2 linked regions of the Homo sapiens genome follow. The protein of the gene in region 1 purifies or fractionates together with the protein of each later gene. This does not show direct contact. Each region holds a gene or a part of one and is shown in the gene's direction. Other genes may lie near its edges.

What was found.
Region 2: the proteins of KCNJ10 (region 1) and COPB2 purify together in Homo sapiens (affinity purification with mass spectrometry, with the first as the bait; one large-scale study listed by BioGRID). This does not show direct contact.

What each region holds. Positions count from the first base shown.
Region 1 is NC_000001.11:160,063,542-160,067,192, reverse strand, and holds part of KCNJ10 (ATP-sensitive inward rectifier potassium channel 10), read left to right. Parts: intron 1-3,651. UniProt on the Homo sapiens protein: May be responsible for potassium buffering action of glial cells in the brain. Inward rectifier potassium channels are characterized by a greater tendency to allow potassium to flow into the cell rather than out of it.
Region 2 is NC_000003.12:139,376,069-139,379,719, reverse strand, and holds part of COPB2 (coatomer subunit beta'), read left to right. Parts: intron 1-253; coding exon 254-340; intron 341-546; coding exon 547-673; intron 674-1,530; coding exon 1,531-1,679; intron 1,680-3,651. UniProt on the Homo sapiens protein: The coatomer is a cytosolic protein complex that binds to dilysine motifs and reversibly associates with Golgi non-clathrin-coated vesicles, which further mediate biosynthetic protein transport from the ER, via the Golgi up to the trans Golgi network.

The sequences.
Region 1 (3,651 bases):
TTTGAGGTGGTGGGGGAAGGGAGGGGCTGGCTCTGGAATGTGAGAGAGAAGTAAGAACAGAACTTTGTGGCATGGAGAAGGAGGTTGGAGAAGCAGGAGCTAGAAGAGGACTGAATCAGACCTCAAGCCTCCAACAAGGTGCAGCACAGAAAGGGTATACATGGCCATTGTGCAACTTTTCCGATGGCACAACACCTGGGGAAAGGATTGTGGCTGCAGCTAGAAGGACTTAGGTTAGATCTCAGGAAGCACATCCTAGAAAAGGAAAGACATTTGAAATGGAGACTGGGAAGGAAAGAGAGACCACTTTCTGGACCAAAAAAACCAACCAAAACAAAACAAAAACCACCAACAAAATCCCCAAACACAGAAGCCCATCCTTAAAGCTTCCGAGAGGAGTGATGGAGCTCAGAGTGCAGGGATTATTGTGACAACTGTCAGGGGCCTCCCCTGGGTGGCTGCTGCACCTCTCTCTTGCTGTTCCAGGGCTACTTTCCGCTCTGAGAGACAGCAGGCACTATGGTTAAGAGCATGGCCTTGGAGTCTGACTTTGTGGGATTCGGTCCTGGTTTACCACTTAGTAGCTAAGGAAGTCCCATCCTCACAATAGGGCTCATAACTGCTGTGAGGATGCACAGTGACTACCGTAAGGGGCTTGGAATGGTCCTTAGTCTGTAAAAAGTGGAGTTGTGGGCCATTGCTTTTCTCCCACCACTCTAATGTTTTCTACTGTGTCATCTTTCCTTGTTCCTGGGCTTTGTCCCAGCCCTTCTTTGTGGGTTTTGCTTTGTTTTGTTTTGAGATTCTGTCCTAGGTTTTTTCTTCCCACCCTTCTGGAGTTTGGGAAGGTAGAAGAATTATCAAGCAGTTTAAGATGCATTTCCTTCCTTGATTCCAATAGGCTGGGCATCACTTGAGGTGGGGTCTCCACACCCACAGCCCCTGCTTTCCACAAGTTTTTGCCAAGCAGATGTCCTGTCTTCAGATTCAATAAATGAGAACTGAGTGGTTGAGCTTTCACCAAATAGTCTCTTTCCCCATTCTCAGCAACTTCTCTTTCAGCCAAAGACTTCTGTCAGAGACTTCTTCTGTCGGTCAAGACAACCCCCACATCTCATTCCTGCTCCCATGGTCCTGCCTATCGCTCTTGTATTCTTCATCCTGCCTCTCCCTCTCCCGGCCCAGGTTTGCCCCCACAACTTCTCTCAGGTTTATATGCCCTTCTCTTCTTGTGTCTCCTGATTGGCTTGTTCATCCCATCAGCCTGGATGCCCACAGCAGCCTCCTTAATGACCTCCCTGACTCCAGCCCCCTCTCTCCTCGACTCCTTCCCTGTTACCCTATAATGAAATTATCACTGGAATTGTCATCATGAAGCATCAGTTTTATCTTGCCCTTTCTCTACCCAGACACATCTGTTGGCATTGGATAAAAATTTCCCAATCACAGGCTTCAAGAGACTTTATGCCTTTCTCCCATCCCCTCCAGCCCCATATCTTGTGGAACTGCACTCTTCAGACCCTGATCCTGGGGAGCATATCCCAGGCAGTCTCTGAGCCATGCTCCTCCCCACACTCTGGACCCTCACAAAGGCCATTCCAAGTCTCACCCCTCCCGCAGATCTCTATTCTCCTGTTTCCCTCTCTGCTCTGCCATCTTGCTTGTTACTTGCATCTGCAACTTGGCCCAGGGTTCTCCATGCATGGCGATGTTGGAGGAGACTTGTCTCCCTCATTAGCCGGGGGTTTCCTCTAGGGTGAGGCCTGTACCTCCGTCAGATTGGCAAAGGCATCTCTTCTCTCTCTGGACCCTCTGGCACCCAGCAAAGGGCCTGCCTCCTAAGACACAGAGTAGCTACTGTCCAGTTTGACTCTAGGTAGGAAACATTTCTGATCGCTTATTCTTGGGGAAGGAGCCTGACTTTGGAGGTTTATGTGAGCATCCTGCAGCAGGGTGTGTATAGGATCCTATTATCTAATTCTATAGGAGATCTCAAGAGAAACCCCTCTCCTACTAACGACCCCATCCTGTAGACATGGCTTCACCCTAAGATTACAAGCCCTAGAACCCCCAATTTATAGTCTTCTAAGCATTGTTGCTCCACCCACCCCCCCAACACAAATGCAGGTATGTAGGCCCCAGAGAGCCTTTCTCCCCTCACCAGGGCAGTCTGACTCCAGCCTGAGGCCGGGCTTGTCAGCAGCATCGTCTGGAATGAAAAAGGGGGATAAAGGTCAGAGTCTAGTCTGAGGCAGCCCCATTGTCCTGAGCATACCTCTGAGCAGGGGCTTGCAAGGTGGCAGACATGTGAGGTCACCTCCCAAGTGGGGTATAGGTCTGACCTCTTAGCACTGCATTCTCCCTGGACCAGCCTCCTCAGCTCCACTTCTGATCCCAGTTCCAACTGGTAGAGCCAGGCACACTCCTTCTCCACGTGTCTAAACCTCCCGGTTGACCCTGTGATAAAAAAGATATAGGCAACTGGTAAGAGGAGAGGGTGAGTGTATTAGAGTCTAGAGCACTGGTTTTTAAACTTTTTGACCTCAGGACCACTTTACATTCTAAAAAGTTACTGAAGACTCCAAAGAGCTTTGGTTTGTGTGGGTTCTATCTATGAACATTTACTGTGTTAGAAATGAACACTGGGACACATGAAATAATTATTAATTTTTGCATGTTAACAAAATGACGTATTTTTAATGAAAAACAGCTGTATTAAAGTAAACAAAAAGTTAATAAGAAGAGTGACATTGTCTTATATTTTCACAAGTCTTTTTAAACATCTGGCTTAATCAAAGACAGTTGCTTTCTCATCTGCTTCTGCATTTAGTGTGTTGCAATATCATAGGTCATGTACCTTCTGGAAAACTCTACTGAACACTGTGAAATAATGAAAGTGAAAAGGGCAAATAATGTATTGTTAGCATTATTATGAAGATAGGTTTGACTTTGTAGAGCCTCCGAAAGGGTCTCAGGAACCCTCCGAAAGGGTCCAGGGACCATACTTTGAGAACTGCTAGTCTAGAGGAACCTTAGAAGACAGTTTCAAAAACCTGGGCCAATTTGAATATCCTCGTTGATTTCCTTCAGCTGCCATGGTCTTTTGAATGTTCTCACCAGGGAGGTAGTATGGGGTAGTGGTTCATCATGTTAAGTTCTGCCTCTGTTCTACTACTCACTAGCTATGTGGCCATGGGCAAATTATTAATATCTCTGTGCTTCAGTTTTCTCATCTATAAAATGGGACTTTAAAAAGCACCCACCTTTAGAGTTGTTGAGAATTAAATGACATAATAGGAAAGGGCTCAGCGTAGAGCTCAATGATGTGAGCTCTCATTAAATTCCGGAGCCTTGCCCCTGAATCCACTGCGCATTGTCCCGAAGGCAGGGAGCTGCAGAGGAGATCCATCCAATGCTACACATAGGAGCTCGGCCCAGAGAGGGAAAGTGACCTGTGCAAGTTCCCAGAGAGAGTTGACAGGGTTGTTGGGCCCCGAACCCAGGAGTTCTAAGGCCTAGCTCCATCTCTGCTCTCCCCGCCAGAATTTTTTTGTGGAGAGTGGAGGAGCAAGGTCCTAAGACGGGGAAAGAAGCAGACTTTACCTTTCTTTTCCCCAGCAATCTCAGGTGAGCCCAGGGCCAGGGCAGTAC
Region 2 (3,651 bases), on another chromosome or scaffold:
AGCACAGAGGATCTGGAATACCATCTTGTGGATATTTGCCTTCTCTTATCTTTTAAAAAGTGTTTTAATTTCGAATCTATTAAAAGATAGTTGGTCTTTTTTAAAAATTTGAATGTTGAGCTTTTATATTTTAGCCTGAGAATATACTAAAATGAGAAGTGATCTTAAAAATTGGATGTTTGAAATATAACAGAGTAGATTTTGTGGTTATTTTCTTATAGCTCAATTTGTGTATTCTTGTTACATTTTAAAGACACTGGTGAAGACATTTGAAGTATGTGATCTTCCTGTTCGAGCTGCAAAGTTTGTTGCAAGGAAGAATTGGGTTGTGACAGGAGCGGTAAGTAATTAATATGAATCTCTATTCCCATTTTCTGAATTGGTCAATGATTGTGTAAATTTGTTGCAGGATTTTGATTCCCGATTTGTTTTGTTATTTACAGCAATGTTTTGAGGCATAGACTTTATTCCTTGAGCCTGTGATATAGTTTTTTTGTATAATTTACTTGATAACAGGGATGATGGTTTTAAAATTTCTGTTTCTAGGATGACATGCAGATTAGAGTGTTCAATTACAATACTCTGGAGAGAGTTCATATGTTTGAAGCACACTCAGACTACATTCGCTGTATTGCTGTTCATCCAACCCAGCCTTTCATTCTAACTAGCAGTGGTAAGAGATGACCTTTTTTGGTCATGTGCGTCTCTTTGGGTAATTCATTTTCATTCACTGAGACATGCTATGCTTTAACTGCTGTTACAAATATAATTCTAATTCCAAGCGGCCTTTAAACTATTTAGATCCATTACTGTGCTATTGATGCTGCTTGTGTTTGTACTATAATGAAATATCAACTGTACTTAGGATTTGTGTAATGATTGCTCCAGTTCCTGTCAGAGAAGACCTACAAGTCTAGATGTTTAAACATCTGCTGAACAGAAAGGTCATTTACATGTTGATGAGTGAGTTTTTGGCAGATTGCCATAGACCCTATTCAGTTCAATCTTTATATTCAAACTAGTTTGCTCCTTGGTATTGTGTATAAATAGTAGACCTCTTGGAGGACTGGAAAAAGAGGTAGCACTGAATTAGTAATAGCTCTTTGAAATGTTTTTAAATTAAAAATTGAGAAGTAATTAAAAACTTTTTAAAAACCAATCTTGTGAGGGCAAATGCTTGTTCTCTACATAGTCATTGCTATCACTATTCAGTCATGCTTAGATCTAGTCAAACTTATATTACTCTTTGGCCATTCTTTAATGCCCACTGAATTTTTAAGTTTTTTCACAGAATTTTTATATTTTCTATTTCTAATCTATTTTATTTATTTTATCTCCACTTTTCTGTAGAGAGTTAAATTTATTTTTAAGATAAATAAGCATTTTGAAAACTCTATTTGGTTTTGATTCTATTTCTGTAAGTCATGGATTATATGGTTTGTGTTAGGTTTGCTTCTTCTAAAGACTGTGTCTTAGTTATGAAGTGAAAAAATAGAATTACAACTAACTTGAGACTTTCTTTTGGCCTAGATGACATGCTTATTAAGCTCTGGGACTGGGATAAAAAATGGTCTTGCTCACAAGTGTTTGAAGGACACACCCATTATGTTATGCAGATTGTGATCAACCCCAAAGATAACAATCAGTTTGCCAGTGCCTCTTTGGACAGGACTATCAAGGTAGGGCATCCACATTTTGTGTCAGTTATCATTATTAGTGAACTATACTTGCCTTAGGTGTTTTACTGTTGACTGGTCAGAAATGTACCCATCTTAAAAATTTTCCTCAAAAGCCTGTTTTGAAGTCAAAATAGGATTTCTCATTTTAATCCAAACGACATGTTCTGTTTAGAAAAATATTGTGGCAACTCAGTGCTCTTAATGAGGAGCGTTTTTCTGTGTGGAGGCAGCATGTTATAAAAATTTTTTAGCCTTTGGAAACCCAGAATAAGAAAAATGCCAATATCTTTTTAGGATACTACTGTCCTCTCCTTTTAGTATTCATTGTTGACTTCTGCTCATCGTTTATCTATTTTACATTTAAATTCCATATGCCTCTATTCTCTCTTTCTTACTCCATTTTACCACACTGCTGTCTGTTATCTTTCTGAAACAGTTCCTGATCTAAGGATAAAGTCCAAATGCCTTAGTGTGGAATACAAGGATTTCCAGGACTAGCCTGGGCTAATATTATGCGACATCTCCTAAAACCCTGGTCTACTCACCATCCTCTAGAGAGGCTATGAATGTTCACAAAACCTTACTTCATTGAACTGTTCCATCTTCCTGCACTTCTCTTTATTTTCCTATTTTGATATATTTTCCTCCGGAGAATTACTCAGCTTTTAAGGTTTAGCACAAATATTTACTCTTGAGAACCTCTTGTCAGACATCAACTTCACCTCTAGACAGAGCCAGTTATGCTTATCCCATTTCTTCCATTGCTTTTTGCCTCTGTTTCAGCCTTTCTCAGATTGAATTATTATTACACGTTTTTGGAAATCTTTATCCCCTGAAATACTGGATTTGGGGGATAGAAACTGTGTCACTCCCTTTCCCCAGCCATTCAATAGCAAACAGCAAAGTGCCTTACCTGACCTAGATGCTTAATACATGTTGCAGTGAGGGCAATCATGCTTCTTTTTTTTATCATAATATTTAAAATATTTCCATGCCAGGCACGGTGGCTCACGCCTGTAATCCCAGCACTTTGGGAGACCGAGGCAGGTGGATCACAAGGTCAGGAGATCGAGACCATCCTGGCTAACACGGTGAAACCCCGTCTCTACTAAAAATACAAAAAATTAGCTGGGTGTGGTGGCAGGCGCCTGTAGCCCCATCTACTCGGGAGGCTGAGGCAGGAGAATGGCATGAACCTGGGAGGCAGAGCTTGCAGTGAGCCGAGATTGCGCCACTGCGCTCCAACTTGGGGGACAGAGCGAGACTCCATCTCAAATAAATAAATAAATTAATTAATTAATTAAAATATTTCCATATGCATTGACTTAAAATAAATTAACTTTTGCTTACATGTTTGCTTTCACCTATATAAAACACTGTTAGTAGTTTTCCTTTATGTAAAATGTTATGTGTCTGAATATCTTAGGGTTTTAACCTTAGCTATTTTGCCTTTGATTGGATTATCCTTGCTTTTGACATAGATTAACTTTGAAATTAGTTGTAAACTTTTATTTTTACTAATTTAGGTTTATCTTGAGAACAATAATTGTCTTATCTTCAGTTCCAATAAAGTTTATTTTATACAGTAATTGATAAACATTTGTTACACGTTTATACTCCCCACAGGGCCTCCCATATAATAGGCACTCAATAAATATTTGTAAAGATAAAGCTTAATTCTGTGCTGTGGTAATTTTTAACAATTTTCTACACTTTAAATTGGTAATTAGGCAGTAATTTTCTCCTTTTAATAGGCCTTTATTTTTATTTATTTATTTATGTATTTTTGAGTTACGGTCTGTGTTGCCTAGGCTGGAGTGCAGTGGCATGATCACAGCTCACTGTAACCTCAAACTTCTGGGCTAAAGCGATCCTCCTGCCTCAGCCTCCTGAGTTGTTAGGACTACATGCGTGTGCCTTCATGCCCAGCTAATTTTTTACTTTTTACTTTTTTGTAGAGACAAGGTCTTGC